Linked DNA regions of Homo sapiens: all the other regions are linked to region 1. Evidence: fine-mapped QTL for protein levels in blood plasma. Region 1 holds a variant in brackets. A gene starts in each other region. All regions are shown on their forward strands.

Region 1 (4,350 bases):
CATCTGGGGCTCTATCTCCACATGGCATTTATACATGAGTAGCTTGGGCTTCCTCACAGCATGGTGGTCTCAGGGCAGTAGTACTTTTACATGGCAACCAGCTTCCCCAGAGTGAGCGTTCTAAGATTCAGAAAGTGAAAAATGAAAGTTTCTTAAAACTTGGTTCCAGAACATAGCACAGCAAAACTTCCACCACATTCTACTGGTCAAAGCAGTCACAGAGTCACTCATATTCAAGAGGCAGAAGTACAGACCTCACTTCTTTAAGCCACTACAGTGACAGGTGGTGATATGTCATTAGAGAAAGCCCTAAACAAGAACCTTGTCCCTCACCTGCCCCCAAATACCATGGAAGATGTCTTTTTTTTTTTTTTTTTTTTTTTGGGGATAGTCTCACTGTGTCATGCAGTGGTGTGATCTTGGCTCACTACAACCTCCTCCTCCTGGGTTCAAGCGATTCTCCTGCCTCAGCCTTCCGAGTAGCTGGAGTTACAGGCACCCACCACCTTACCCGGTTAATTTTTGTAATTTTAGTAGAGACGGGGTTTTGCCAAATTGGCCAGGCTGGTCTCAAACTCCTGCCTCAAGTGATCTGCCCACCTCGGCCTCCCAAAGTGCTGGGATTACAGGCGTGAACCACCACAGCCAGCCGAAGATATCTTATTTTTTCTTCATTAGCCACAAGATTTGATGGGGAATGTAATTTTTGTCTCCATGGGTTGCCTTAGCAAATGATGAGAAGAACATGAATTTTTCAATATTGTGCTCCTAGAGTGCCATTGAAATGGTAGTTCTGTCTCTTTTTCTGACAGTCCTGAGGCATCCCGGGAAATAGAGCCCAGCCTTTATCCCCGGTCCCCAGCACATCAGGGGAAGTGCACTCCTGTCCTTATTCCTCACTGCAGTGCATGCAGGGAGTTCTGGCCATCAGGTTATCTTCTATCCGTCTCCTTTCCCAAAGCATGCTGGGAAATGTGGGGATGTCTCCTTAGAACAACAAAATAGTTGCAACCTTTGAAGTTTAGGAGAAGACTAGAAGGTTAGTGTTCAGTGTGTGATCTGGAAGCTTGCATTTGTAAGAATTAAAGAAAGAGGAGGCCAGGCACGGTGGCTCATGCCTGTAATCCTAGCACTTTGGGAGGCCAAGGTGGGCAGATCACCTGAGGTTGGGAGTTTGAGACCAGCCTGAACAACATGGAGAAACCCTGTCTCTACTAAAAATACAAAATTAGCCGGGTGTGGTGGTGCATGCCTGTAATCCCAGCTACTTGGGAGGCTGAGGCAGGAGAATCCCTTGAACTAGGAGGTGGAGGTTGTGGTGAGCTGAGATTGTGTCATTGCACTCCAGCCTGGGCAACAAGAGTGAAACTCCATCTCAAAAAAAGAAAAGAAAAGAAAAGAAAAAGGAAAAGGAAAGAAACATGAAATGTGGCTTGACGGTGAAGGACAGGTTTATTTTAGAGAAAACCAACCTGAGGGGGGCTTTTGGCTGAGTTAGGTTAGAGAGCCCTTTTTTTTTTTTTTTTTTACAGACTAAGGATATTTAAGAGTTTTGGAAGGGGGTGCTTATCTAGGTTCGGAATGTTTTCATGTGAGGAAAAGTTTATTGTGGGGTTGGAAAGTCTCTGGTCGGAAGGGAGGCTATCTGGGGGTTGGCATGTTTCTGGTCAGAGAGGGGTTTATCTTAGGGTTGGAATGTTTCTGGTTATGCTGATGGTAGCCATTAGGCTGATGTTTTGGGGCTGGATTTAGCTGATTTTTTTTTGAGACAGAGTCTTGCTCTGTCACCCAGGCTGGAGTGCAGTGGTGCAATCTCGGCTCACTGCAAGCTCCACCTCCCGGATTGACGCCATTCTCCTGCCTCAGCCTCCCGAATAGCTGGGACTACAGGCACCCGCCACCACGTCCGGATTTAGCCGATTTTTAATCAAGAGGAACTAAGAATGGTGGTGTTTGTTCAAGATGGCAGTGCTCCTGCTCTGTCAGCATTTGGAGTCCAGAAATAGATGTGGAGGCAGCCCCCAGGAGGACTTCCAACCTAGGCAGGGGCCTCAAACATGACCCCTGATTCCAGGAGCCTGTGAAAAGGTGTCCCCCACCATTTATCCTCCCAAAGATAGACACTACAAAGAAGGGCATACCTGGCCTTGTCCACTGGTACAAAATCTTTATGTAAGTATAAAATAAATAATATGAATATTAATTAATAACAACAACACAACAGCGGCAACAATATTAATAATAACAAGAGCTCTCCCATTGGCCCACGGCCTTCCTCCAGCTTTTCTCTTCTGCTTCACACAACTTTGTGAGATAGCTGTTTTCATAGCTGGGAAAACTGAGGCCCAGAGAGGTCGGCACACTGGCCTGAGGTCACACAGCAAGTCTGTAGGGCTGGGAGCCGAGGGAAGGGCAAAGGGGTCCCCCGGATCCAGCCAGGGCAGAGAGGGGGATTTCAGGTTTAGGTCCAGAGGAGAGTGCCTCCCCACAGTCTGGCAGTCATTAGCAGGGTGATGGTG[A/G]GGCTGAGATGGGCAGGGCCAGGCTGAGGAGCAGCCCCACTGCGGTACTGGACATCCAGGTCTGGGTGGTTACAGCCACTTTTAGTACAGCAGGAGACATCAATGTGGTTCATGCTGAAGGCGTCACCCAGGTGGGCATGTTGGCACATTGAGGCGGTTGCACAGCCTCTTACCATATAGCTTTGGTTTTTCGGTTCTGAGGAAAGAGAAGACGGAGTGAGACTTCCAGCTCCTGGGCCCAGGACTGGAATTCTCCAGTAGGTGACCTGCCACCTTGCAGTGGGTGCCACCTTCACTACCACCTAGAGAAAGCAGCAGTTCTCAGGGCCAGGTGTGGTGGCTCATGCCTGTAATCTCAACACCTTGGGAAGCCAAGGAGAGAGGATAGCTTGAGCCCAGGAGTTCCAGACCAGCCTGGACAACATAGCAAAACTCTGTTTCTACAAACATAAAAAAGAAAAAAACAGCTGTAGTCCCAGCTACTTGGGAGGCTGAGATGAGAGGATCACTTGAGCTCAGGAGATGGAGGCTGTGGTGAGTTATGATCACGCCACTGCACTCCAGCCTGGGTAACAGAGTGAGACCCTGTTTCAAAAAACAAATAAAAAGAAAGAAAGGAAGGAAGGGAGGGAGGGAGGGAGGGAAGAAGGAAGGGAGGAAGGGAAGAAGGGAAAGAAAAGAAAGAAAGAGAGAGAGAGGGAGGAAGGAAGGAAGGAGAAGGGAAAGAAGGAAGGAAGGGAGGAAGGAAGGAAGAAAGAAAGAAAGAAAGGGAAAGAGAGACAGAGAAAGAAAAGGAAAGAAAAAAAAAGAAAGAAAGGAAGCGAGCAGCGGTTCTTAAAGTGTGGCTCAGGGACCCCAGAGACCCTTTCAGGAGATCTGTGATTTCACATGGCTTTTTCACTCTCATAAGTGTACAATGGGCTTTTCCAAAAACTCCAGGACATGTGATATTGCAAGAGACTGAAAGCAGAAGCTTCCATGAGGACCCAGCTGTCTTCTATTAAGCTGGACATTAAAGAGATGTGCAACACAGCAAAATAATGCCAGTTTTCTCATTACGCTTTTTTTTTGTTTTTTTTTTTGAGATGGAGTCTCACTCTGTCACCCAGGCTGGAGTGCAGTGGCACGATCTCGGCTCACTGCAACCTCTGCCTCCCGGGTTCAAGCAATTCTTCTGCCTCAGCCTCCCAAGTAGCTGGGACTACAGGCGCGACCACCATGCCCAGCTAATTTTTGTATTTCTAGTAGAGACGGGGTTTCACCATATTGGCCAGGCTGGTCTCGAACTCCTGACCTTGTGATCTGCCCGCCTTGGCCTCCCAAAGTGCTGGTATTACAGGCGTGAGCCACCGCGCCTGGCTGGTTTTTTTTTTGTTGTTTCTTTGTTTGTTTTTTTAAGACAGGGTCTCGCTCTGTTGCCCAGGCCGCAGTGCAGTGGTGCAATCTCCGTTCACTGCAACCTCCACCTCCCAGGCTCAAGTGACCCTCCCACCTCAGCCTCCCAAGCAGCTGGGACTACAGGCATGCACCACCATGCCCAGCTAACTTTTGTATTTTCTGTAGAGACAGGATCTTGCTATGTTGCCCAGGCTGGTCTCAAATCCCTAGGCTTAAGTGACCCGCCCACCTTGGCCTCCCAAAGTATTGGGATTATAGGCATGAGCCACCATGCCTGGCTATCATTACATTTTTTCTTTGGAAACTATACTTATTTTTCATTAAAATGTTATTTATCTTAATGTGTAATGAGTTTTTATTGTTATAAGATGAATTCATAAATAAATCTTTAAAGATTTCTCAGTTTTGGCTGGGCACGGTGGCTCACATCTGT
Region 2 (4,350 bases), not on the chromosome of region 1:
AGGTGTCTATGGTGAGGTGGCTGGGAGAGCAGCAGTGGCCTGGCACAGGGGGAGAGCTTTAGCAGGGTGAGAAGGGTGACTATGCAGGGTATTGGCTTGACAGTGGTTCTGGAGCCCAAGCAGAGTGAGAAGAACATCCCTTAGGGGTGGGAAAGTGTCCTGGCATGGGGAACCAGAGCGAGGAGATGTCCACTCCTGGCAATGGCCCAGTGCAGGGTGTCAGAGGATAAGATTGAGGAGGGTGTCCATAGTAGGGGTAGCCTGATGTGAGAGGTCAGAGTCTGAGAGGTAAAGAAGGCATCTATGTGGTGGGATAGTCAGGTGCAGTGAGTTGGAGTGCAAGCAGGGTGAGGAGGGCATCCATGTATGAGGTTACCTTCTATAGGGAGTCAGAGTCGCAAATGGCTGAGCAGAGTACTCTAGGGCCAGCCTGGTATGTATGTCAGCATGTGGGAGAGGTGAGGAGGGCACCCATGCCTAGTGTTGGCCCAGTTGGGGTTGGGACTCAGCACTTAAGCAGGATGAGGAGAGAGAGCATCCTTGCAGAGGGTAGACCTGGTGTGGTTTCAGAGACCAAGCATGATAAGGAGGGTGTCCATGTGGTGGGGTAGCCCAGTGAGGGAACTCAGATCCTAAGTAGGGTAAGATGGACATTATTGCTGGGGGATGGAGGACCTGCATGGAGTGTCAGAGCCCAAGCAGGATGAAGAAAGCTTCTATGCAGAGGGAGGACTTGGTGTGGGTTTCAGAAACTTAGCAGGATAAGGAGGTGGTCCATGTGGTAGGATAGCCCGGTGAGGAAATCAGACCCCTCCAGGGTGAGGAGGGCTTCCACCCATAGGGTGACCTTGTGTGGAGCATTAGAACCTAAGGGGGTCTAAGTGGTGACTAGGGGACCAGCATCAGGAATCAGAGTGCAAGCAGAGTGAGGAGGGCTTTCCTGCAGAGGAATGGCCTAGCACAGGGAGTCAGAGCCTTGGCAGGGTGAGGGGGATGTTTGTTGGGGGATGTTCATGGGGGTGGGGAGTGGGCTGGCCCTTTGCCGGCACTCTCAGAGTGAGGAGGGAGGGCATCCGCGCAGGGGATGGTGGCTTGGACTGGGGAGTCAGAGCCCAACTAGGAAGAGAGGGACATCTTAGCAGGTGGGAGATTGACGACATCCAGGAGATTGATCAAATAAGGAATAAGTGAAAGACAATGAAAGCAGGTTTCTTAGTGTCACAGAAAGGAGTTAGGAATGTGGGAAGGGAGAAAACTAGAATGAAACTTGTGGTGTTAGATTGGAATTAGAGGAATTAGTGTGAACTCATGGTGTTCAATATATTTAGATATAGAAATAATATAGAAATATAGACGTGTGTGTTTGTGTGTGTGTGCATGCATGTATGCATGTGTGTTATGCAGGAGAAGGAATCAGCTGGGGGAGATTAAAAGGAGGATCATTTGCGGAGAGTTGAGGGCAGAGAATCCAGGTGTGAGCTGGGAGCATGTCTATGGAGAGATTCCACATGAAGGATTTAATATTTGGAGTGTTTTCTTCTAGGCCTTTGGAAAAAGTCATATTTAGTACTTTGTTTAAGTTTATCCCCTTCTATACTGTGATTCTATATAATTCTCCTAACTGTTAAAAAATAGTCATATATATTGGAGGTGATGTGGCGATTAAAAGGTTAGGGAAGCATGGAATAAAGGCTGGCCTTCCCTCTCCTCCAACATCCAGTAAAGGGAGCTGCTTTCTGGAGATTCTAGCAAGATGAATGCAGACTTTTGATAGAGTTAGTTACCAACAAGGAAACACAGAGAGCATGGAGGAACAGCTTCAGAAGACATGGGGTTTAAACTTTGCCATCCCCACCATGCTACAGGAAACTAATTCGTGAAGGTGGGGAGGCTGATATGTGAGTTTTGTGTCAATGATACTCTTAGAATGTGGTACTAACAAGTTGCCTGATCAGTCAAAATTGATGAGATGAATGCAACATAAGTCTATGTTCAGGATGTTTGGTCAAAAGTAATTACATTTGTGTGTGGAAGCACAGAAATTGTATTTTTTACTGGTGAAAAACGCAGTTCTCCAGAAAGACTCTAAGTGCTTGGTTCTTCTTTTATTTTTCTTCCTCTTTCCGCAACCCTTTGAGTTCCCACTTTTATTGCATTTGCTTGCATTTGTTTCAAGGCTGTGATTCTCACTATACTGGTCCTGAGGAAAGGGCTTCTGTGAACTGCGGTTTTTAGTTTTTATTGTGGTTCTTAGTTCTCATGAGACCCCTCTTGAGGATATGTGCCTATCTGGTGCCTCTGCTCTCCACTAGTTGAGTGAAAGGAAGGAGGTAATTTACCACCATGTTTGGTTCCTGTTTATAAGATGTTTTAAGAAAGATCTGAAACAGATTTTCTGAAGAAAGCAGAAGCTCTCTTCCCATTATGACTTCGGAAATCACTTATGCTGAAGTGAGGTTCAAAAATGAATTCAAGTCCTCAGGCATCAACACAGCCTCTTCTGCAGGTAAAGATCATTTTCTAGGGGTCAGAGTGAATGACGAGGTGAAGGATGAGGAGAGGGTTTATGAATAAGGCATAGGTGTTTTCAGTTGCTGGTTGTCTGATTGAGTATGTCTGGGAAACACAAGAGTCCCAGAAGATTGAGTGGCCTGCAGATACGCATTACGGGGTGTACATTTGTATTGTGGAGAAGAAAAGATTTTGTGCCACTCTCTTCAGCCTCCACTCTGCTTACTGAAACAGAGGTGAGAGAAATCCACTCCAGTTCTGAGCTAAGGCGAGTGCTCTGATGCCCCTGTGTTTTCTGAGGCTGAGTGGGGCTGGGGTTAAGAGATTGAGTACAGCTTCTGAAACCATCAATCCAGATGCAGGGGGTCCTGATGAATTTGTGAGATTTGTTTTTTGATCAGTTAGAGGGAAAGAGTTTGGGTGGACAGTGGTGAGGGTATATTTGTTGGTAATGGATGGAAATGTAACAAAAGGCCTTTGCAAATGAAAGACTAGAAAGTCTACAAAGAAAGTCTCTTAAATCTCCAGGAAACTTTTTCTGAAATCAGAGAACCTATTGCGTGTTGCATCTCTGAGACAGACTCTGTTACGTTTGGGAGTAGATGCAAGGTGATTTGGGTGTCATGTGTGATATCTCAAGTATAGAGCAAAAGAGAGAAAAGAATGTATATAGAGTACAAGAAACTATGGGGGAAGGGGTCAGGACTATAGTTACGCTTTCTAAAATACCTCTGTGAAGGTGTGGAGAGCACTTAGGGAAATTTTTTCTCCTTAAAAACTTTATATAATTTCTTTATTACACAAGTATTAATGTTCATTGTAGAAAAAATTAACCAGAGGTACACAGATATTTGAATTATAATTACTCTTATCATCTAGAGAAAATCATAATTTGCAATTTAGTGAATATCCTTCCACATACAAATACATATAATGTGCATATGTATTTTACTAAAAATGTAATCATATTATATAATACTGAATTTTTTTCCCCCATCATTTGACAAAATATCATAACTCGAAGAAAGTGATTCCTAACCATGAGATGGTAACTAAAAAGACTGACTTTATTCTAAACATGTGATGAGGAATGATTATAAAGATTTATTTGCTATAGCATTATTTAAAGTTGGAAACCATTATTTAAATATATGATGAAATACTATGCAACCATAATAAGGAGTGTTAAAGAAGAAAATATAATGGTATGAAAAATGTTCATGATATAGTGTAAAGGAAAATAATAGGTCAGAAATCAGTATTTATGGTATGTCAATCGTGGGAAAATTTGCATATGTGTATATATACATTCAAAAAATTGCTAGAAAGATATATACCAAAATATTATGGTATATTATAAGTTATATGGCATAACAGTTATCCTCAATTGTAGGAATTCGTACTTTTATGTATTTTTTAAAGTTTCTACAGTGAATATTATTATATCCTTTCTATTCCTATTCTCATGTGATTTCAAATGTCATACCGTTAGTAACTGTGTGTCATCCAAGAAAAGAGAGAGAAAGAGGAGGAGGAAGAAGAGGAAGTAAAGACCAAACTTATTACTGATAAAACTAATTTGGCTTCTTCTTCAGCTTCCAAGGAGAGGACTGCCCCTCACAAAAGTAATACCGGATTCCCCAAGCTGCTTTGTGCCTCACTGTTGATATTTTTCCTGCTATTGGCAATCTCATTCTTTATTGCTTTTGTCAGTAAGTATGCCAACTGAACCAATAAGCAATATCTGCTGTCCATGAACAGAGGGTATCCTTTAAAAACTGACTTTTGAAAATGAGCTTATCCAGAAATCTGAAATGAAATTTTCTCTGGGGAGACATA
Region 3 (4,350 bases), not on the chromosome of region 1:
TTGCAGTGAGCTGAGATCGCGCCACTGAATTACAGCCTGGGTGACAGAGCAAGACTCTGTCTCAGGAAAAAAAAGATTAAAAAAAATAAAAACGGCTGTTTTATTAAGAATTGTTATTAGGAACGGGCAGAGAAGAACAGTGTCTGTGTAGTTCAGCATGTGAGTGGTAATTTGCTAATTATATCTGGCTTGTCACTCCGGTCTCTGTAACTTGCTGTGTTTTGTCAAGTGATTCTTCCAGAAATTTTGTGTATATTATCTTACTAAACTCTCATTAAAGAGGCCCCTCAAATGGAAGAAGGGAACTTAGAGTTTTTAGAATGTGAATAAATTTAAGGGACTTTGGCTTCTAGAATTCTGTAGATCTCTGTTTTGCTGGGAATATACAGCTTCCCATTATTCTGAGATTGGCTGATCTGTAATGCTGTGAAATATCAGTGTTTACTAAATTTGTTATTTTACATTTATGGGCATACATTTTTTTTTAATTCTCTCTCTCTCTTTTTTTGAGACAGGGTCTCCCTCTGTTACCCAGGCTGGAGTGCAGTGGCGCACTCATGACTCAATGCAAACTTGAATTTGCCTGGACTCAAGTGATCCTCCCACCTCAGCCTCCCAAGTAGCTGAGACTATAGGCATGCACCAACATGCCCAGCTAATTTTTGTAATTTTTGTAGAGATGGAGTTTTACCACGTTGCCCAGGTTGGTCTTGAACTCCTAGGCTCAAGCAATCTCCTAAAGTGTTGGGATTACAGGCATGATCCACTGCTCCCAGCCTTAATTCTTTTAAAAAGGGGAAAAATGAGGTTTTTCACTATTGCTCCAATCACCATCATAGCTAAATAAGTTAATGCACATAGTTAAGAAATGTACAGTAGAGAGAAAACAATCTGTGTTGTATTTAGAAACTAGCAAGAATTAAGGACTAATAATATCTGAATATGAACTGGTATTAAGCCCAAACTACTGCATCAGGAGACCATCAATAAAATTTATTTATCGAGAGCCATTCATTAGTCAACCAAAGTCGTGGGAAATTTAATCTGTATAAGGAGTCATAAGGCATAAGGGATAGGTATGAAGGATTGTTGAGATGATGTGTTTTATTTCGCTAATAATGCATATGACACCATTCCAATTTTTTTAAATTTAAAACAACAATCATTTATTTGCTTGCTTCTCAAGCCTGGGTAATCGTGTTTGGCAATGAGACCTTGTTGCATGCTTGCTAATATCCCACTGGTCAAAGCTAGTCAAATGGCCAAGCCTAGAGTCAGCGTGGGAGAAGGCCACACAAGGGTTTGAATTCTGAGGACGAGTCTCTTTCATTGAAGGCCAAAGAAACAGTCTACCTCAGAGGGTTGCTGGGGAGCTATAATGCAAAGAATAAACCTCACCCTGCCTTCAAGGCGCTCACAGAGAAGAAATCTTTTGAATATTAGTGAAGTTTTCCTGGACATCCCAATGGATAGATGTGAGGGACAGTCACGTACTCAGGACATCTGTTTGCTTATGGTGTTATGTTACAGATGTCACAAATGAAAATCAGAGACATGTAGCCCTGAGCCCAGTAACTATAAAGCGGTCTAGCTGAAGCTGGAGCCCACAAGAGGGCACTTTGCACCATGATGCACGCTTGTTTCTTGCCATCAGCTCTGCAATGAGTTCAAGCTAATGCCATGTCCCAGCCGTCCAGTTGTTTTATGACTTGTGTGATTGAAGCATATGGTGGCTTGTGGCATGTTCTTAGGCAAACCACTCACCTCCCTAGGTTTCGTTTTCCTAATTTCTCAAACAAGGGAGTTAGATTAGGTGGTCTATAGTTCCTTCCAATTGTGATATTTCACTATATAACAATATAGTTATAATAGATCATAGCACATCTGTAATGAAAAAAAGTGAGTTCATTTCTTAACAAGTACATTTACTTAACTAGTTGGAGTCATTAAAGCAAATTAAGAACGAAATTCTTAGTTAATCTGAACTTTTCTGGGCATACTGATCTGTTCCCTAACGCGTCTGACCGTGGAAAAGTGGATCAGCAGGAGTGGGACTGGCTCTCAGCTTTGCCATGTTTGGCTCTTTCTCTGCTGTGAAACTCAGTTTCTTCCTGGATCAAGAGGTTAATTTCTGCCGGTGTTATTTTACAGTGTTGCAAAGAGATAAAAGCCAGACGAAAGAAGGGAAAGTACTTCAGCTTTGATTAGGGATTTTTTTTTCTGTCCCTGTGACCATACACTACTCAATTCTGACAGCTTCGCATGAGTCTAGCAGAAAATTGAGGGATTCACTGTTATTCCTTAACTTGCAGAGGTCCAGACCCGCCCACATCAAATGGTGAGGTCCCCACTTTCAACTTTAGCTGTTGCTAAATCTGTGACCCTTTCAATGAAATCCAAGGATCTCAGCTTAAAAAAAGTTAAAATAAAATAAAAACTAGGTGTTTTTCAGAGGCGGTTTGAAACGCCTCTCTGAGGTTGTCAGAGATTGTTTTTGTTTTCTCCCTTTGCCCTTCTTGGAATGCACCAAACATAAAAGCATTTTTTTTCAAGCTTTACTTTCACTTTCGAGAGTGCCGTCTATTTGCCACACACTTCCCTGATGAAATGTCTGGATTTGGACTAAAGAAAAAAGGAAAGGCTAGCAGTCATCCAAGTAAGTGAAGGTGTTCATTTCACGTTCTTACTGGGCAGGGTCTCTCTTGCTGAGTAGAGTTTGCTAGCAGAATGCATGTGGTTTTAGCCTTCTTTGGTCTTTCTTTGATCTGGTGCTTGAAATCTAGTCAGAATTATTCAGGAAGGAAAGTGGAAGAAAAGGGATATGATATGGGCATGGGAGAAGGGTATAACTCAGAACACAAGTAATAGCACCAATATCTAGTTAATGTGATAATGTATTTATGCAGTATTTAATTTTTTTCTCTGTAGCATTCTGTACCTGGAAAAAACACATTAGGGAAGCTATGGAAATCATTTTGCAACAGTCTTTTTAGCAAATCACATCTTTGCCTTAAAGAAACAAAACTCCAAGAGGTTAAAAGAGCGTATCCCCTTTTGTTAGTTTTATTGGCTGGAGGGGAGACAGGAGCTGGCATTGTATGACAATGTCTTAGATAGGAGAGAACATTCAGGTATGCCTAGGAGTAAGTAAATGGCTTTCTTTCACCTAATGAAGGATAATGGAAGAAGTGGAGAAGTGGAAAGTTGTTAAGGTGTATGGGAAGATCAGAAACTGGTATCGGCAATTGTGGGGTACTCGGGTAAAAATGGAGTTGGCTTCAGCAAGTTGATTCCCAGGTTTACAGATGATTACGTGCTGGTATGTGTCTTCATATGGGCGTGCCTGTGTATGAACCTACTACAAAGGTTGCAAAGTTTACAAATCAAACTATGGATAGTGGTTAACTCCAGGTAGTCTGCCTCCAGACCCCATGTCCTAACCATCAGGCAATATTGTCTCTCACTTGGACAAAGAATGTGAATTCCATGTGCCCTCACAAAATATTTCCAAAATTCTAAGGCTGAGTGAGTCTCTTTTTAATTTTTTTTCATTTTCTTTATTTCTGCTAGATCTCATTCAACAGCAACGTTTTCTTCACTCTCATTTCATCCTTTAACTGCATTTTTGCTTGTTTTACTGAAGCATGTCCTAGAATAACCTTTTCATACAGATCGTATGGCTATAAACTTACTGAATTTTTGCATATCTCAAAATACTTATACCTTTTTATTTAGTTATTCAGATGGATGTGAAATTTCCCTATCTTATTTTATTTTATTTTATTTCATTTTATTTCATTTATCGATTTAGAGACAAGGTCTCGCTGTGTTGCCCAGGCTGAAGTACAGTGGCATGATCGTGGCTCACTGCAGCCTTGACCTCCCTGGCTCAAGCAATTCTCACACCTCAGTGTCACGAGTAGCTGGGACCACAGGTGTGAACCACTATGGCCAGCTAATTTAAAAAAAAATTTTGGTGGAGATGAGGTTTCCCTGTGTTGCCCAGGCTGGTCCCAAACTCCTAGGCTCAAGGGATCCTCCAGCCTCAGCTTCCTAAAGTGATGGGATTACAGGCATGAGCCACAGGTAATTTTCTTGGCCTGGTCAAAGGTAATTTTCTTGTTTTTTAGAGGTAAGGTCTTGCTCTGTTGCCCAGGCTGGAGTGCAGTGGTGTGATCATGATTCATTGCAGCCTTAACCTCCTGGGCTCAAGCGATCCTCCTGCCTCAGCCTCCCAAGTAGCTGGAACTACAGGCTTGTGCCACCACACTTGGCTACTTTCTAAAATATTTTTGTAGATACGGGGTCTCACTATGTTGCCCAGGCTGGTGTTGAGCTCCTGATCTCCTT
Region 4 (4,350 bases), not on the chromosome of region 1:
AGCTGGCTGGCAGGAGAGCCTGGGCCTGCTCTAGAGGACCATAGCTACTGCCACCAACACTCAGCCGGCTGGCAGGAGAGCCTAGGCCTGTACTAGAGGACCATAGCTACTGCCACCAACACTTAGCCAGCTGGCATGAGAGCCTGGGCCTGCTCTAGAGGGCCATAGCCGCTGCCACCACCCACCGCCCAGCTGACTGGCATGAGAGCTTGGGCCTGCTCTAGAGGGCCATAGCCACTGCCACCACCGCCCAGCGGGCTGGGCCTGCTCTAGAGGGCCATAGCCACTGCCACCACCTCCCAGCTGACTGGCAGGAGAGCTGGCCTGAACTTGCCTCTTCCACTCTCTCATCTCCTGCCTGTGGGAGCTGGACCAGCCTCCCAGGACATGGAGCAGGACGGAGAGGGGATCTGGGGCAAACAGAGGCCATACAGCCCTGGGCCTAGCCGCTGCCTCCTGCTACTGCAGAGGCTGCTAAAAGCTGCACTTCCCCGACTCGTTTGCAGCTAAAGTTCCAAGCTGAGGGGGTCACTCAAGGTCCTGAGGGTAAAGCACCTAGCCCAGGGCTCAGCCCACACTGAATGCCCCATAAATGAAGGCCCGTCCAACAGGGTCTCCTCCCCAGGGAGGCTGTCCCCTGTGTCAACAAGAGCCAAACTCTGTAAAATATTTGAAGACATTTATTCTGAGCCAAATATGAGGGACCATGGCCTGTGACACAGCCCCCAGGAGACCCTGAGAACATGTGCCCAAGGTGGTCAGTGCACAGCTTGATGGTACCCATTTTAGGGAGACATGAGACATCAATCAAATATATTGAAGATATACATTGGTTTAGTCCAGAAAGGTGGGCAGCTGGAACTGGGGGCTTCCAGGTTATAGGTGGATTTAAACATCTTCTGGTTGGCAATCGCTTGCAAGAGTTATCAATAGAAAGGAATGTCTGGGTTATACGGGGTTGTGGAGACCAAGGCTTTATCATCAGATGAAGCCTCCAGGTAGCAGGCTTCCGAGACAATAGATGGTAAATGTTTCTCATCAGACTGAAGGCCTGTGTTGATGTTAACGCTGGCTGTTCCAGAGTTCTGAAGGGAGGAGGGATAATGAGGCTATCCAACCCTTTGCTGTCATGGCCTGAACCAGTTTTTCAGGTTAACTTCGGAAAGCCCTTGCCAAGAGGAGGGTTCCACTCAGATGGCTGGGGGGCCTTAGAATGTTACTTTTGGTTTATACCGGAACAGCCCCTGCCCCTGTCCTTTGCAGCACCTGCTAATGATCTGTCAGTGACGCTGTGACCAAGGCTCATCACCCTGCGGGCCGTGGGCCCCAGAGGGCGGCACAGCTTCTATAGGAGCACAGGGCCCAGGGAGGTGCCCTCATCCTTGGCTGGAAGGCCGAGGCCTGGAGGAGTCTGGAGAAAGGGTCTCCCTTGTCTGGCCTTGCACTGTGAGGTGGGGGAGGTGGGAGAGGCATAATCTGGGTCTTGAGGACGTTTCAGCCCTCAGCCCGGGGTGGCTGAGATATGGCCCTGGGTAGGCTCTGTCCTCCAGAGGTGGAAAGAAGGACAAAGGGAGAGGGAGGTGCAGGTCGCTCAGGGAGGAGACTCGGACCTGCCCAGCCCCGGGGCCCTCACTGGCTCCAGGAAACCCGCTGGTGTTGACTGTGGGCAGTCCAGCCTCTCCCCATTTGAGGCCATATAAAGTCACCTGAGGCCCTCTCCACCACAGCCCACCAGTGACCACGAAGGCTGTGCTGCTTGCCCTGTTGATGGCAGGCTTGGCCCTGCAGCCAGGTGAGGCCTTGGCTGGCCCCCAGCAGGGAAGGGAGCAGGGGTGAGCCGGGGAGGCCAGAGGGATACCTGCAGGGCACACGGAGAGGAGGGGAAGGAAGGAGGAAGGGAGAGGAAGGGGGTGAGGCTCTTGCCCTAGCCTCCGCTCCTCCAGGGAAGCTCTTGGCACGACCAGGCAGCGACCTGTTCCCTGCCGTCCCCTGTGACCGGGGCTTGCAGGGGCAGCACGGAGTCACTCTCCTTCACCACCGTGGGGCAGGGCCTGGCTCCTAGGGGGCAGGTAGACAGACTGACGGATGGATGGGCAGAGATGCTGATGAGGAGCTGGGAGACATGGGACAGGAAGCCTCAGGCTAAGAAGTGGTTTTTGGGGCACAAGGGGGAGGTGCTGGGGGTGTCCTGCGAGGACCCGGGGGTCTACATCCGGCCCAGTCCCAGCACTGCAGCTTCCAAGGGTCCCAGGGAGCTGCTCTGCTTGAGGTGGGACCCTCCCGACCCAGGGTCCCGGGTTCAGTCACCCCCACAGCCGCAGCTTCCTCTTCTGAAACACACGGTCACAAAAGCAGCCACCGAGGGACTAAACAGGGCAACATTTCGGAGGCACTGAGCAGGGGGCCGTGAAGATGGGGAGGAGACATTGAGGGTGACAAGAGGGCGCCGAGGACTTCCTCAGGCCACCGCCATGGAGGCCCACCTGCCTGGGAGCCCCCATTCCTGGGGAGTGCTATGGGGCAGCCTCTGAGGCCCCTCCCACTCCACCCCACAGGCACTGCCCTGCTGTGCTACTCCTGCAAAGCCCAGGTGAGCAACGAGGACTGCCTGCAGGTGGAGAACTGCACCCAGCTGGGGGAGCAGTGCTGGACCGCGCGCATCCGTGAGTGGGGGGACGACAGCCGCCAGGCCTAGGTCTCTGCCACTGAACTATTAATCTTTCTGGCCATCTGTCCGCATCTGTGTGCTGTTTTCCTTCCACCTGTCCCCGACCCGTCCCGCACCTGCACCCCCAACAATCACCCAGCATCTGTCCCTCCAGCCATCCTCCTCCATCTGCCACTCCTCCACTCATCTGTCCCTCCCCATCCTCCATCTTCCACTCCTCCACCCATCTGTCCCTCCCCATCCCTGAGCTCACTTACTCACTCACCCCATTTCTGACGCTCAGCGGGTGGTCCATCTGCCTCGGACATCTGGATAGGGCTGAGACCAGGGCCGAGACCAGGCCCTCGCACTGCTTGCAATCCTGAGGCCAGCCCAGGGGGACTCTAGAGCATTAGGCAGGGTGGGACAGGAGGAGGCCTGGGGCAGGTCAGGCAGGTGAGCACACAGGGCAGCCCCATCCCCGGATCCCGCTGCTCCCCAGGCGCAGTTGGCCTCCTGACCGTCATCAGCAAAGGCTGCAGCTTGAACTGCGTGGATGACTCACAGGACTACTACGTGGGCAAGAAGAACATCACGTGCTGTGACACCGACTTGTGCAACGCCAGCGGGGCCCATGCCCTGCAGCCGGCTGCTGCCATCCTTGCGCTGCTCCCTGCACTCGGCCTGCTGCTCTGGGGACCCGGCCAGCTCTAGGCTCTGGGGGGCCCCGCTGCAGCCCACACTGGGTGTGGTGCCCCAGGCCTCTGTGCCACTCCTCACACACCCGGCCCAGTGGGAGCCTGTCCTGGTTCCTGAGGCACATCCTAACGCAAGTCTGACCATGTATGTCTGCGCCCCTGTCCCCCACCCTGACCCTCCCATGGCCCTCTCCAGGACTCCCACCCGGCAGATCGGCTCTATTGACACAGATCCGCCTGCAGATGGCCCCTCCAACCCTCTCTGCTGCTGTTTCCATGGCCCAGCATTCTCCACCCTTAACCCTGTGCTCAGGCACCTCTTCCCCCAGGAAGCCTTCCCTGCCCACCCCATCTATGACTTGAGCCAGGTCTGGTCCGTGGTGTCCCCCGCACCCAGCAGGGGACAGGCACTCAGGAGGGCCCGGTAAAGGCTGAGATGAAGTGGACTGAGTAGAACTGGAGGACAGGAGTCGACGTGAGTTCCTGGGAGTCTCCAGAGATGGGGCCTGGAGGCCTGGAGGAAGGGGCCAGGCCTCACATTCGTGGGGCTCCCTGAATGGCAGCCTCAGCACAGCGTAGGCCCTTAATAAACACCTGTTGGATAAGCCAGAGAGACCCTCTGTCCTTGCACACCCCAGGCGGGCACCGGATCCAGGGCTGTGTCTGGACCAGGGCCCTGGTCACATGGGCTGCAGCCTCCGCCCTAACAGGAGCAAAGCTTGGCCCCTGAAAGGAGGACGTCCCTGCAGAGGGTGGGAGGGCAGTTCCCAGGACTTGCACTTGCTGTGCTGCCTGGAGCATGTGGCCAGACCTCTCTGAGCCTTGCGACTCATCTATGACCCCTCCTTGCTGGGAGGATGGACCCAGAAAGTTCACAGGAAGGAGAGCGTTCCGGGGGGAGGGACTGCTACCATTCAAGCTCCTACCCATCCCCTTGGCCTGATTTGAGCACCCCCATTTTTCAAAATTTGTTTTAGAGCTGCACACCCACCATACAGCATTCAA
Region 5 (4,350 bases), not on the chromosome of region 1:
CCGCCTCTCTGGACAGAACCAATGTACTTCTTACATATATTGATTGATATCTCATGTCTCCCTAAAATGTATAAAACCAAGCTGTGCCCTGACCACCTTGGGTACATGTCGTCAGGACTTCCTGAGGTTGTGTCATGGACACGTGTCCTCAACCTTGCTAAAATAAACTTTCTAAATTAATTGAGACCTGTCTCAAAATTTGCGGGTTCACACATGTTATTTAGAAATATGGAAGTAAACACAGGAACAAAACTTGAAAGAATTAAAAATGCTTTCCTCTGGAAAGTGGATTTAACTTAAGGAGGAACTGAACAGGAGAATGCGGGTTTTGGTTACAGAAAAAAAGAGATTCAAATAAAACAGTAGAGAACACCTGTTCTGTCCTCCCTTGTGTTTATCAAGTGCTTGCCAGGCACTCAAAGTTCATTGCTGTCATTATTGTAAGAATTGAGGACTTGGGCCTCCACGTGGTATTCTATTAATACTGGCTCTTTTTTTTTTTTTTTTTGAGACGGAGTCTCACTCTGTTGCCCAGACTGGAGTGCAGTGGCCCGATCTCGGCTCACTGCGAGCTCTGCCTCCTGGGTTCACGCCGTTTTCCCGCCTCAGCCTCCCGAGTAGCTGGGACAACAGGCGCCCGCCACCGCGCCTGGCTAATCTTTTGTATTTTTAGTAGAGACGGGGTTTCACCGTGTTAGCAAGGATGGTCTCGATCTCTTGACCTCGTGATCCACCCGCCTCGGCCTCCCAAAGTGCTGGGATTACAGGTGTGAGCCACCGCGCCCGGCCAATCCTGGCTCTCTTAAACTGAACATCTCCAGGATTTTGCATCTATCAGGAAGGGATATTGTGACCTCTGACAAGTTACAGTCGGCGGTAGGTATCCATGGAGAATTGGTTCCAGGAACCTCCTGGATACCAAAATCCACAGATGCTCAAGGCCCTTATATTAAATGGTGTAGTATACAGTATTTGCACATCCTCTTCTATAATTCACGTCATCTCCAGATTCCTTGTAATATCAAGTACTATGTAATTGTTACATAAGTAGTTGTTACATTGGATTATTTAGGGAATGATGACAAGGAAAAAAAAGTCCGTACATGTTCCGTACAGATGCAAGCATTCTTTTTTTCCTCAAATGTTTCTCATCCGTGGTTAGCTGAATTTGGATGATGAATCCGCAAATCTGGAGGGCCGAACATGCTTAACTTCCCTGAGTTTATCCATTGCTAAAGCGAGAGAAATTACAAACTTAGCTAGGAAGGGTGTTGCGGAAAGTAATTAATATTATACTTGCAAAGTGCTTGGCACGTTGTTGTGGTTATTATTTCCTGAAAACAAACAAACACCACTTATTGGTTGGTGTGAAAGAGGGCATCTGTCAAAGTTGTCGTCCTTTGGAGCCAGAAAAGTATTTCTTCTGATGATGACTGACCTCTCCTCACCTCTCCTTCAACCTTGCGGCTTCTTTGGGGCTCCCTCCCCGTGGACAGCGGTCAAGATTAGCCTGGGCCACAGTGCACTGGTCCTGTCCTGGGTGATGTTCCAAGCTCACTCTTTTTTAATTTTATTTATTTATTAATTTTTTTTTTAGACAGAGTCTCACTCTGTCGCCCAGGGCTGGAGTGCAGTGGTGCAATCACTGCTCGCTGCAGCCTCGATCCCCTGGGGTCAAGCCTCCTCACATCTCACCTCGCAGGTAGCTGAGACTACAGATGCGCACCACCAGGACCAGCTAAGTTTTGTATTTTTTTGTAGAGAGGAGGTTTCTCACCTGTATGTTACTCAGGTTTGTCTCGAACTCCTATACTCAAGCGATCCGCCCGTCTAGGCCTCTCAAAGTGCTGGGATTACAGGCATGAGCCGCCGCGCCCCGCCCCACGCTCAGTCTTGAAATTGTCTGGAACGGGAAACGGCAAACAGCGAGATATCCGAGCGAGAGTCCCGCCCTGCATCAGTTTGCGGAACCGCCTTGGTAGAAGGAGAGAAGGGGAGTGGAGGAAGCACGGGACTGGAGGGACCAAAGTTCCCCGATGGCGGCCCAGGGGTGCGCGGCATCGCGGCTGCTCCAGCTGCTGCTGCAGCTTCTGCTTCTACTGTTGCTGCTGGCGGCGGGCGGGGCGCGCGCGCGGTGGCGCGGGGAGGGCACCAGCGCACACTTGCGGGACATCTTCCTGGGCCGCTGCGCCGAGTACCGCGCACTGCTGAGTCCCGAGCAGCGGTGAGGCAGTCGGCCGGGTGGAAGGGGAGCCGGAAAGAGGCAACGGTGGGGAGGGCCTGGGGAGGGGAAAACTGGCGCTAAAGTTCGGGGTGAGGGGGCAATGAGAGAGGCCTTGAGGGGAGAGGTGAGTGTGGAGACAGCGATGGTCCTGAACGATGGGGGCGAGTGAGGAGGGGGCTGTGAAGTGTGTCTGCAGGTGAGGGGTGCGCTGTGCGGGGTCTAGAGATGAGTGTGTGTGTGTGCGCGCACACACACACTGTAGAGGTGAGGGGTGTGTGCGTGTGTTCTAGAGGTGAGGGGGGTGTGTGTGTGCGCGCGCTCTAGAGGTGGGAGGTGTGTGTGTGCTCTAGAGGTGGATGTGTGTGTGTGTGCTCTAGAGGTGGGGGTGTGTGTGTGTGTGTGTGCTCTAGAGGTGAGGGGTGTGTGTGTGTGTTCTAAAGGTGAGATGTGTGTGTGTGTTCTAGAGGTAAGGGGTGTGTGTGTTCCAGAGGTGAGGTGTCTGTATGTGTGTTCTAGAGGTGAGGGGTGTGTGCATGTGTGTTCTAGAGGTGAAGGGGGTGTGTGTGCGTGCGCTCTAGAGGTGAGGGGTGTGTGTATTCTAGAGGTGAGGGGTGTGTGTGTTCTAGAAGTGAGGGGTGTGTGTGTTCTGGAGGTGAGATGTGTGTGTGTGTGTTCTAGAGGTGAGGGGTGCGTGCATGTGTTCTAGAGGTGTGTGTGTATCTGTGTTCTAGAGGTGAGGGGTGTGTGTGTGTAGTCTAGAGGTGACAGGTGTGTGTGTGTGGTCTATAGGTGAGGGATGTGTGTGTGGTCTAGAGGTGAGGGATGTGTGTGTGGTCTAGAGGTGAGGGGTGTGTGTGTTCTAGAGGTGAGGGGGTGTATGTGTATTCTAGAGCTGAGGAGAGTGTGTGTTCTAGAGATGAGGTGTGTATGTGTGTTCTAGAGGTGAGGGGTGTGTGTGTGTTCTGGAGTTGAGGGGTGTGTGTTCTAGAGGTGAGATGTGTGTGTTCTAGAGATGATGGGTGTGTGTGTTCTAGAAGTGAGAGGTGTGTGTGTTCTAGAGGTAAGGGATGTGTGTGTGTGTGTGTTCTAGAGGTGAGTTGTGTGTGTGTTCTAGAGGTGAGATGTGTGTGTGTTTGTTCTAGAGGTGAGGGGTGTGTGTGTGTAGTCTAGAGGTGACAGGTGTGTGTGTGTGGTCTATAGGTGAGGGATGTGTGTGTGGTCTAGAGGTGAGGGATGTGTGTGTGGTCTAGAGGTGAGAGGTGTGTGTGAGTGTGAAGGAGGGTGGAGAGGTATCCCTCTAGAAGTGAGGGTGGGGTAGAGGTGAACTGGGTAACAGCCCATTGCCACCCAGCAGATGTTTAGTCTGAATACTCAGAACCCAGAATGTGATCTCAGGTTGGAATTCCTTGAGTCCAGTCCTTCCAGAATTCAAATTTCAGATCCCCTAAATCTGGAGGATTTCTGAAGTTTGGGTCTTTCTTGCCAGTGCTGCATTTCTTACTGATTTTTGTTCCTTCTGTGGCCCCCCTTTTCTTATGTTTGTGATGTCTTTCTTGTGCTGATCATTTTTATTGTCGCACATTTCAGGCAAATAAGAAACAGCAGAGAACCACCTGTGTTACACACCACCCAGTATGAGAAACAAAGTTACAAATGCTATGGGAAATATTTTTTGAAAACTAGCATGGACCTCAAGAGGGGCTTGCACTGGAGGGTGCACCTGCTTTGCCAGAGGTGGAAGCCTTTTGCAGCATTGGGCCTCCCTCCTAACACTACACATCCTGCTGGCTGGCCTGGCCTCACCTGGTCCCCGAGCTCCACACTGGAACTGGACTATGAGACTGGCCCCACCGTTAGGTCTAAATGAAGAGGCACCTGCTGTATAGTTGACTGAATTTGTCACCTCCTGCTCGGTGCCATTTCTGCTTGTCTCCGTGAGCCTGGGGCAAGGCTGTATTCCTTAGCTCTGAGAAATCTGTGCAGTGCCTTCAGAGAGACAATTCCAGTGTCAGATTTCTGAATCTGTCACCTAAGCCATGACAATTCGTTGTCTTTTTTGTAAGCCTACTTCTGCAGTTACTATATGAAAAATCTCTTGTAAAGCTCTTAGACAAATGGGCATACTT
Region 6 (4,350 bases), not on the chromosome of region 1:
TTTTTAAATTTTTTACTTTTCTTTTTTTGTAGAAATGGGGTCTTGCTATGTTGCCCAGGCTGATCTCAAACTCCTGGGCTGAAGCATTCCTCCTGCTTTGACCTCCCAAAGCACTGGGATTACAGGTGTGAGCCACCTCACTCAACCAACGTTTGCTTATTTTGTATTTGAATTTGCTTCCTTCCTCTTTGTCATTTCCCCTCCCTGCTAGAATTGCCCTTTCCATCTCTCTTTCCCAGTTAAGATTTTCAGAGGGACCTGCGCAGGTCACATTGCGAGTCTGAGGATGGGGAATGAGATAGGGGTGGAAAGAGAGATGGAAAGGGCAAAGAAAAAGGAAGCAAATTCAAATACAAAATGAGCAAACATTGGTTGAGTGCAGTGGCTCATGCCTGTAATCCCAGTGCTTTGGGAGGTCAAGAGAGGAGGATTGCTTGAGCCCACGAGTTTGGGTCCATGTCACCTACCTGGTCTTCTTCCTTTAAATCGCTGTCATTTTCACTCACCCTTCTAGAAAGAATCTTGTCATTACATTGGGCAATTTCTATGTTTTGTGAGGGAACTCAACCATAAAATTCATTCTGCAAACATGAAGAATGTCCTCTAATTTTTAGCCTAAATTTATTTCCCCAGAGACAAATGTGTTTTCCTGCAGTTTTGTATTTTGAATGTCTATTAATAAGAGTTTCTCTTCTGAAGTCCAACCTTTGCAGGACAGTTTCATTTACTTGTTTACACCACACCTTGTTCCGGGAAGGATTTAAGGTAGATGTTGAGGATGGCATTTTTTTTTTTCAGACAGGATCTCAACTCTATCACCCAGGCCAGACTGCTGCAGTGGTGCAATCTCGGCTCACTGCAACCTCCGCCTCCCAAGTTCAAGCGATCCTCCTGCCTCAGCCTCCCTAGTAGCTGGGACTACAGGCATGCATCACCACGCCCAGCTAATTTTTGTATTTTTAGTAGAGACAGGGTTTCACCATGTTGGCCAGGCTGGTCTCAAACTCCTGACCTCAGGTGATCCACCCACCTTGGCCTCCCAAAGTGATGGGATTACAGGCGTGAGCCACCACGCCCAGCCCATTAATTATTTCTCACAAACCATTCCAACCCCTTTACACTAAGCTTCGTCAAAACAGAACTATTGTTAATTCTTGAACTCTCCATGGTCTTTAATGTCCTCACACTTGCACATAAGCTATTCCTTTCCCACTCAGCCAACTCATTCATCCTGCAGGATGGACTTCCAATGAAGCCTCAGTGACATCTCCCACCCTTCCAAGAGCAAAGTGAGGGGTTCCTGTTGCATACTCTCATCACCACATGAATGAGTCTCTACAACAGTAATTTCCACATTGTATTGTAGTTAGTTGACTCCCTCAGTTCAGAAGTTACTCTTAATTACAGCACCCAGAACAGTCCTGGCACATATCTGGTGCTCAGTAAGTGTTTGTAGGATCCGTGGATGAATGATTGAATGTATAGAAGGATGCACAGGTGAATGAACGGATGTATCTTTCCCTTTTCTGTGGACACTTCACCTCTGGTTTGAACCCAGGACAGCTCTTCTACCTACTGTCCTGCCCCCTGCAAAACCAAGTCCCCAAAGCCACAGCCCCACTCACCTGAGAGGCAGAGAAGGAGTAGAGCTGGGAGCAGCCACATGTTCCTGTCTCCTTGGCTTCCGTCCTCAGCAAATCTAGGTCCCAGCTGGAATCCAAGTATATGTAACGGAGCCTGGGTCATCCACTTTCTACTTGTCCAAGTTTCCTTTGTGTTCTCACTCATCTATTTCCTCTTTTGCCTTTTAAAGAATGCTTCCTAATTTTAAGCCTTACTTAGCAGAAGAGAAAGGGTGGCAAGAGACGTTTCTGAGAATGGACCAAGCACAAACAGGAAAATCTGTTGGCCTTCATTTAATGTGAACGTAATGTTTGAGTCACCCCCTGAGATTTCATGACTCGGAATTTCATGAAAGTCAGTCCCAGTTTACGAAACCTCTCCAACAGAGAAAACTCTGTTCCCTGCCTCTTTCACTCTTCTTCCTATCTGGGATTACTTCATCGATCTAAGGAGCTTCCCTTCTCTATGGCTGCCTACTTTTGAATCATAAAACACCCTCTACTTAAGGAGCTGTGGTGATCACTCCCCATGTCTTTCTCAACCGTTATCTCCATGCGGATGACTTCACACCTCTTCCTCTAACCCAATATCCCAATATCTCTCCTGGGCTCCAGATCCTACTTTCTAACTTCCTATAGGGAAGCTCCACCTGGTTATACACTGTTAACCTAGTTCAGTATATGGGTCATGGTCAACAGCATAGATTCTGAAGTCACACAAACTCAAATCTCATCTCCATCATTTATTAATCATCTGACCTTGGGCATGTTGCCAAATCACTCTCCTCCTCAGTCTCCTCATCTGTAAAATAGAGTACTCATGACAATTCTTTCTCAAAGGGTTGCCACAGGAAATAAATGAGTTAATGTAAGTAAAGTGCTTGATACAGTGCCTGGAACATAGTAACTGCCCAGTTAATATTAAATACCTTTAGAATAGTCCTGGACCATTGAAATAGCTTCTCATCTGGTCCCTCCACTAGCTATACATTCTCTCTAATCCAACTTGCACATCAGAAGATACTCTTCTCTAAGACATAGCTATCTGAAAATATAATTTCTTTCCTTCTCTTTCCCCAGAGATACCCATCTTTGATACCCACAGCCTCTAATCTTTACTATCTTTTAGAACTCTACTGGATCATCTGATATTTCAAACTTTTGTTGTAAGAGCACAACTTCTTATCTTTTCTGTACCACCATATCTGATGAAGTATTATATAGCCAGGCATGGTGGCACGTGCCTGTAATCCCAGCTACTTGGGAGGCCAAGGCAGGAGAATCACTTGAACCCAGGAGGTGGAGGTTGCAAAGCAATGAGCCAAGATCACACCATTGCACTCCAGCCTGGCAACAGAGAGAGACTCCATCTAAAAAAAAAAGAAAGAAAGATGAAAGAAAGAAAGAAAAAGAAAGAAAGAAAGATAGATAGATTATATATAGAATAGAGCCCTGGATGGAACAATAAAACACCAGGACCCTGGTCCCATGTGTGACATGAGCCACACACTTGAGGGATCCAGAATGAGCAGAGCTGACAGTAGCCACAACATTGTGTCTTAGTCCATTTTCTTCTACTATAACAGAATACTACAGGCTAGCTAATTTATAAAGAACAAAAGTTGGCAGGTGCAGTGGCTCATGCCTGTAATCCTAGCACTTTGGGAGGCCGAGGCACGTAGATCACTTGAGGTCAGGAGTTTCAGACCAGCCTGGCCAACATAGCAAAACCCTGTCTCTAACAAAAATACAGAAATTAGCCCTGCATGGTGGTATGAGCCTGTAGTCCCAGCTACTCAGGAGGCTGAGGTGGGAGAATTGCTTGAACCCAGGAGACGAAAGTTGCAGTGAGCCAAGATCACGCCACTGCATTTCAGCCTGGGCGACAGAGAGAAACTCTGTCTCAAATAATAATAATAAAAAAGAACAAATTTGTTCACCTTCCTAGCTTTCTGAAGATGAGAAGTCCAAGAGCATCGTAGTGGCATCTGACAAGCGTCATTCCATGGCAGAAGACAAGACAGCAGGCAAGCCTCCTAGACAGAGAGAAAAAGGGGACTGAACTCAGCCTCTCAGGAAACCACTCTCACAATAACTAACCCACTCCGGAGATAACAGCATTAATCCACTCGGAGGACTGAGCTCTCATGGCCTAATCACCTCTTAAAGACCTCACATCCCAATGCCATTACATTGACAGTTAAGTTTCAACACGAGTTTCTGAGGGAACATTCAAACCATAGCAACCCTTGTGCCATTTATTCAGCAGAGACAACAGTTGCAGGCTTCAGTTCTTTCCACCAAGAGGACCAAACAAATCTTCAGCCTTCTTGGTTCTGCTTTTATAATGTTTTCTTCTGGTTCCTTTTTTGAAAATCTTATCCCTACAGTTGTTTATAAAATAAAAGAAATGGGAATAAGCAAAGGCATGTGTTGATGGTTGAAAAACTATAAACTCACCATGTCTAATATAGGCACATTTCATTATAATCCAATTAGAAAATCCAAACTCCGACCACCTAGTAAGACCGAGTTGACACAGAAGCTATCATCTGGTTCCAAACTGAAGTCAAATCCAATAAAAGGAAATTCCAGGTATTAGAAATGTAAAGGGAACTAAAAGCCAGGTCTGTGAGCAGGATCTGATACCAAGAGGCTAATGGGGACCAGTCAAAATGAATTTGGGCCTTAGGAGGAGAGGGGCTGCTGTTTAAATAGCCACTCAGGG
Region 7 (4,216 bases), not on the chromosome of region 1:
CACCTAGCAGAGAAACAGAGCCTGGGAGTGACCCCATAGCAGGACCCAGGGCCGTGCTCAACACCTCTGTGGGTAAGAGGGACCAGTGAAGCTGGGGCTCAAGGCAGGGCCCCCACCTGGGACATGAGAAGAAGTGGCATCTTAGGCCGTTTCACTAGGTACTTCCCACTGGCAAAGTTTTATTGCGGAATCTTTTCGACAGCCTGGCAGGGTCCTGCTATAATTGCTGTCATCTTCCACAGAGAAAGCTGGAGCCTAGAGAGGCTGTGAGGACACAAAACCACACAGAATGAAGAATGTCACACACAGAATGATGCACAGAACACGCACACACTACACACAAACCACACACACAGTAGCAGATGGCAAAACAACAAGAAAACTACATCCCCAGCCCACATCCTCCCTGAACTCCAGACTTCCCTCTCCTGAGCATACGACTGCCTAGGGCAATGCCAAAGGAGCAAGAGCCGCAAGAATGTCCTGGACTTGGCCGGGGAAGGACCTGAGCTGGTCCTGAATGCCCTTCCTGCGGTTTCAGCTTCTCCCAGGGCTCAGGCCCCGGCCTCGCAGTCCTCTCACCTTCTGGATCTGGCCTGGTGACTGTCCTACAGAAGGTGGTTCCCAGTAGAGGCTTAGGGCTGGTATGGGAGAGGCCTTATATAGCAGGTGGCTGTAAAATCAAAAAGCACAGCTGTCTTCTGGGGTGGGACCTCTGGGTCAGACAGGCTAAGGCTTCTGGCTCTCAGACTGTGCCCTGCCCAATAGAGCTACAGGCTGCCCAACCCTTTGGCATCTGTGCAGCTCGTGCCCTCTCTGAGACCTCTAGGAATTGGGAACAACTTTGGTCAAGGCCTGCCTTTGGCAAAATGTAAACAGGAGTAAGGTATCTTCCAGCATTGTCTGTGGCCTTCTAAGTCAATTCCATGACCTGCTAATGACAAGCACCTAACAACCTGCTAACAGTCACCATGATTAGCCCATTTATAGATGAGAAAACCAAAGCACAGAAAGAGAGCCATAAGAGATATGCTCATGGGCACACAGCCGGGGCACAGTCAGAACTCAGAGCTCCGAATCAGACTATGTGGGGTCTGTGCAACTCAGGAAAGGGCCTCAGTTTCCCACAGGCAAGTGTCTTAACCTTGTTAGATTTGAGGGTCCTCCAACCAAGATGAGTGTAAACTCACTGTGCAGCCTCATAGTGTGGTAGAGGGACCATGACGTGAAGCCCCTGCCTGCAGTGTGCTCTGCACACTGGGTGAGAGCCCACAGCAGCCATCGAGAGAGTCTTTCTGGCCAAGTGATCTGAGCAGCTACTGGTAACAGCCCAGGTCAGGTCAACTGAGGCCTCTCTGTATTAGTCAGGTTCTCTGTCCTCTAGAGAAGGTGAGTTTATATATGTATGAAGGGGAGTTCATTAAGGAGTATTGACTCACATGATCACAGGGTGAAGTCCCACAATAGGCTGTCTGTGACCTGAAGACCAAGGAAGCCAGTCTGAGTCCCAAAACCTCAAAAGTGCAGCCTTCAGTCTGTGGCTGATGGCCTGAGAGCCCCTGGCAAACCACTGGTGTAGGCCCAAGAGTCCCAAAGCCGAAGAACTTGGAGTCCGATGTTTGAGGGAAGGAAGCATCCAGCATGGGAGAAAGATGGAGACTGGGAGACTCAGCCAGTCTGGTCCTTCCTCGTTCTGCTGCCTGCTTTTATCCTAGCTGTGTTGGCAGTTGATTAGATGATGTCCACCCAGATGTAGGCTGGGAGGCTAGGCCAGTCTAGCCTTTTGACATTTTTCTGCCTGCTTTATATTCTAGCAGAGCTGGCAGCTGATCAGATGGTGCCCACCCAGACTGAGGGTGGCTCTGCCTCTGCCAGTCCACGGACTCGAGTGTTAATCTCCTTTGGCAACACCCTCACAGACACATCCAGGAACAATACTTTGCAATACTTTTCAATCCAATCATGTTGACACTCAATATTAACCCTCACACTCTCCCAGTCTCCTCACACTGTGCCATGGGTGCTCCTGGTTTTGAGTGTGGACTTGAGTTATCTTCCCTCCTCATCTTTCCACTGTGCTGACACTTTATACACACACGGTGGGGAGTGGGAGGAGCCCACTCAGCCGAGGATGCAGAGGTTGAGGGGCACACATCATACCAGTATCCCCCAGCCTGCATTTAAACCTTGCAGTTCCCTGCTCTTGAAAATACCCCTTGGGGATGGCTACGCTACCTGTGTCTCAGCTCTCTCTTCCTTCCCCAAACTCATGCATTCATTCAACAAACATTTTTTGAGCACCCTCCCTGTCTTAGGCCTACTGTAGGAAACCGGGAGGTATTTGTGAGCAAAAAGACAAAGACCTTTGCCCTCCTGGAGTGTAGTCTAGAGAGGACTACAGACAACATAAATTAAAGTGGTAAATAAGCAAATCACAGGGAAAGTCAGAATGTGGTGACTGCTCTGGCAAAAAGACAAAGAGTAGGATAAGTCATCAACCATGCTAGGGGGTGAGCAGGTGCAGGCTTCCACTTTCAATGAGGAGGTTGTAGTAGGTCTCATGGAGAAGACAAAATCTGAGTTATTTTTATAAGCAGAGACTCTGGCCATCTCTTATTCTCTCCTCTCCTCACCATCTGCCTTCAGGCTGCTTATCACAGCATTTTCCTAAAAAAAAAAAAAAGCAGCTTCCTCCCTAACAGAACCATATTGTTTCCCAGCACACATTAGTCAGTCACCTGGCAGGGCACAACAAGAGAAGTGGCACAGTAATATCCAATGGGGTGTGTGTGGGCTTGCGGGTTTCAGGAATGTGGCCTCCCTGAGCCACCGATGGAGGATCCAAAGAGCTCATGAACACTGCCTCTGAGATAACAGCTCTGGTGTCAGGCTGAGTACTGGCATGAGAAAATCGGGCTGATCAATGTTAATTCCTCTCAGAAGGCACCAGATACTCAGGCAAATGGACCCAAAGCGACCACAAAGATCTGAGTCTGAATCCAGACTTTGTCCCTCACATCACATAAGTTACTTATTAACCGCACTTGTTGGGCCAGAGCTCTTTGTCTTTAAAATGGAATCATCAGGCCCTGAAGAAATGCCTCCTGATGATTTATTTACTCCTGGAATCATCACCCCATTCCTCTGTGTTTTTCCAAGGCCATCTATCTATCAATAATGTCCTGAGGACGTCTAACCATGTGGGAATTATTATTAATAGCACGTATGATTTTAACTGAGCCATTTATCAGTAAGGACACTGAAGACAATGGAAGCCCCCTGAACTAGGCTGCGCAGTCTATACGGCTGCTCACAGCAGTCCTGGGTTCATCCTTTTGAAGCCCCGGCAGTGCGCCAAGGGTACCCCCAGCTGCCTTGACAGATAAGGAAACAGGCCCAGGGAGGCCTTCCCTATAGGCCTTCAGACGCCTGGGCCAGCAATCTTTCCATTTCAACATGGCTCAGGTGGGACGCAGCCTCCACCCGCAGGATTGGAGACATCGACTTGACTCCACTCCTCCCTCTCCCAGAGGTTCACCTCTCTGTCATTAATGTGGGGTCCAAGGACCTGAATCAGTCACAGGGAATTATGAAAAAGCACCTCTCTAAAGCCGACTCCTCCTGACTAGCAAAGAAGTCCAGAGACCCAGGAGAAGCTAAGTCGCAACAAGCAGCCCAACTTTTAAACTAAGAAGCCCTGGGCACACCGTAGGCACCCTAGTTCCATCATCTTCTTAGAAGGGGACAAGGTTGGCTGTCCCTACAGCCTGCTGAGCTGAGGCAAACCTGGAGCTCAGCTGAGTCCCAGTGAGTCATCCGGTGGTAAATCTGGAACCACTTTAGGAAACGGCCTTTTCCCAAAGCTTCCCTTGATGACCAGCAAAGCTTGGAGGTGAGTTTCCAGGGGAGCCTACCCCATTTTGGAATAAGCATGTGGAGGTGTGTAGGGTCAGGTCAGGGAAGCTGGGGCAGGAATTATATCCAACAGGAGTCTAAGCCAAAGACTCAGCAAAAGGATCAAGAGCATCCACCCCTGACCCGCCTTCTCTCTGTGTTTGCTTCTGGGAGCCTTTCATTGACTAGCTCATTCCTCCCGCTTGGAGATGTGAGAATAGGCTAAAAATAATGAATTATTGCCCCCAACATTCCTGCCCCCCAGTCACCTTGCAGAGGAAATGAGCATATCCTGGAAGATAAACTTCCCCAATAGTCCATG

Which allele goes with the higher level. Positions count from the first base shown, and alleles are read on the strand shown. Strength reflects both the effect of a copy and how common the allele is.
As copies of A replace G in region 1, the plasma level of the protein whose gene starts at base 2,163 in region 2 goes up (moderate association).
As copies of G replace A in region 1, the plasma level of the protein whose gene starts at base 2,564 in region 3 goes up (moderate association).
With allele G in place of A in region 1, the plasma level of the protein whose gene starts at base 1,724 in region 4 is higher (moderate association).
With allele G in place of A in region 1, the plasma level of the protein whose gene starts at base 1,957 in region 5 is lower (strong association).
As copies of G replace A in region 1, the plasma level of the protein whose gene starts at base 1,782 in region 6 goes up (moderate association).
For the plasma level of the protein whose gene starts at base 637 in region 7, allele G in region 1 goes with a lower level than allele A (moderate association).

What was found. PIP is the chance, under the fine-mapping model, that this variant and not a neighbour inherited with it causes the effect. The UK Biobank Pharma Proteomics Project read protein levels with antibody pairs (Olink). The fine-mapping took linkage between variants from a reference panel, not from the people measured, so its PIPs are less certain.
Region 2: CLEC4A starts here. The variant in region 1 is fine-mapped to the plasma level of the CLEC4A protein (UK Biobank, PIP above 0.99).
Region 3: it holds the start of TLR3, and the variant in region 1 is fine-mapped to the plasma level of the TLR3 protein (UK Biobank, PIP above 0.99).
Region 4: it holds the start of PSCA, and the variant in region 1 is fine-mapped to the plasma level of the PSCA protein (UK Biobank, PIP above 0.99).
Region 5: it holds the start of BST1, and the variant in region 1 is fine-mapped to the plasma level of the BST1 protein (UK Biobank, PIP above 0.99).
Region 6: CD300E starts here. The variant in region 1 is fine-mapped to the plasma level of the CD300E protein (UK Biobank, PIP above 0.99).
Region 7: it holds the start of LYPD8, and the variant in region 1 is fine-mapped to the plasma level of the LYPD8 protein (UK Biobank, PIP above 0.99).

Annotation. Positions count from the first base shown.
Region 1 is chr19:43,646,429-43,650,778 of GRCh38, forward strand. PLAUR (plasminogen activator, urokinase receptor) reads right to left here. Exons shown (of 7, transcript NM_002659.4): 7 at 2,151-2,715. The coding sequence ends at 2,462. Among named protein-coding and RNA genes, the nearest start is that of CADM4, 8.8 kb to the left of the region's middle. The variant A/G (reference allele first, on the strand shown) is at 2,520.
Region 2 is chr12:8,121,455-8,125,804 of GRCh38, forward strand. CLEC4A (C-type lectin domain family 4 member A) reads left to right here and starts at 2,163. Exons shown (of 6, transcript NM_016184.4): 1 at 2,163-2,506; 2 at 4,107-4,223. The coding sequence starts at 2,425. RefSeq lists an enhancer at 2,033-2,082.
Region 3 is chr4:186,066,593-186,070,942 of GRCh38, forward strand. TLR3 (toll like receptor 3) reads left to right here and starts at 2,564. Exons shown (of 5, transcript NM_003265.3): 1 at 2,564-2,656.
Region 4 is chr8:142,678,772-142,683,121 of GRCh38, forward strand. It overlaps PSCA (prostate stem cell antigen), which reads left to right and starts at 1,724. Exons shown (of 3, transcript NM_005672.5): 1 at 1,724-1,792; 2 at 2,556-2,663; 3 at 3,150-3,954. The coding sequence starts at 1,768. The coding sequence ends at 3,361. RefSeq lists an enhancer at 2,469-3,115.
Region 5 is chr4:15,701,109-15,705,458 of GRCh38, forward strand. BST1 (bone marrow stromal cell antigen 1) reads left to right here and starts at 1,957. Exons shown (of 9, transcript NM_004334.3): 1 at 1,957-2,224. The coding sequence starts at 2,037. RefSeq lists a silencer at 1,896-1,975.
Region 6 is chr17:74,621,957-74,626,306 of GRCh38, forward strand. CD300E (CD300e molecule) reads right to left here and starts at 1,782. Exons shown (of 4, transcript NM_181449.3): 1 at 1,626-1,782. The coding sequence starts at 1,665. LOC101928343 (a long non-coding RNA gene) reads left to right here. Exons shown (of 4, transcript NR_158152.1): 4 at 3,571-4,040.
Region 7 is chr1:248,755,123-248,759,338 of GRCh38, forward strand. It overlaps LYPD8 (LY6/PLAUR domain containing 8), which reads right to left and starts at 637. Exons shown (of 7, transcript NM_001085474.2): 1 at 583-637; 2 at 117-264.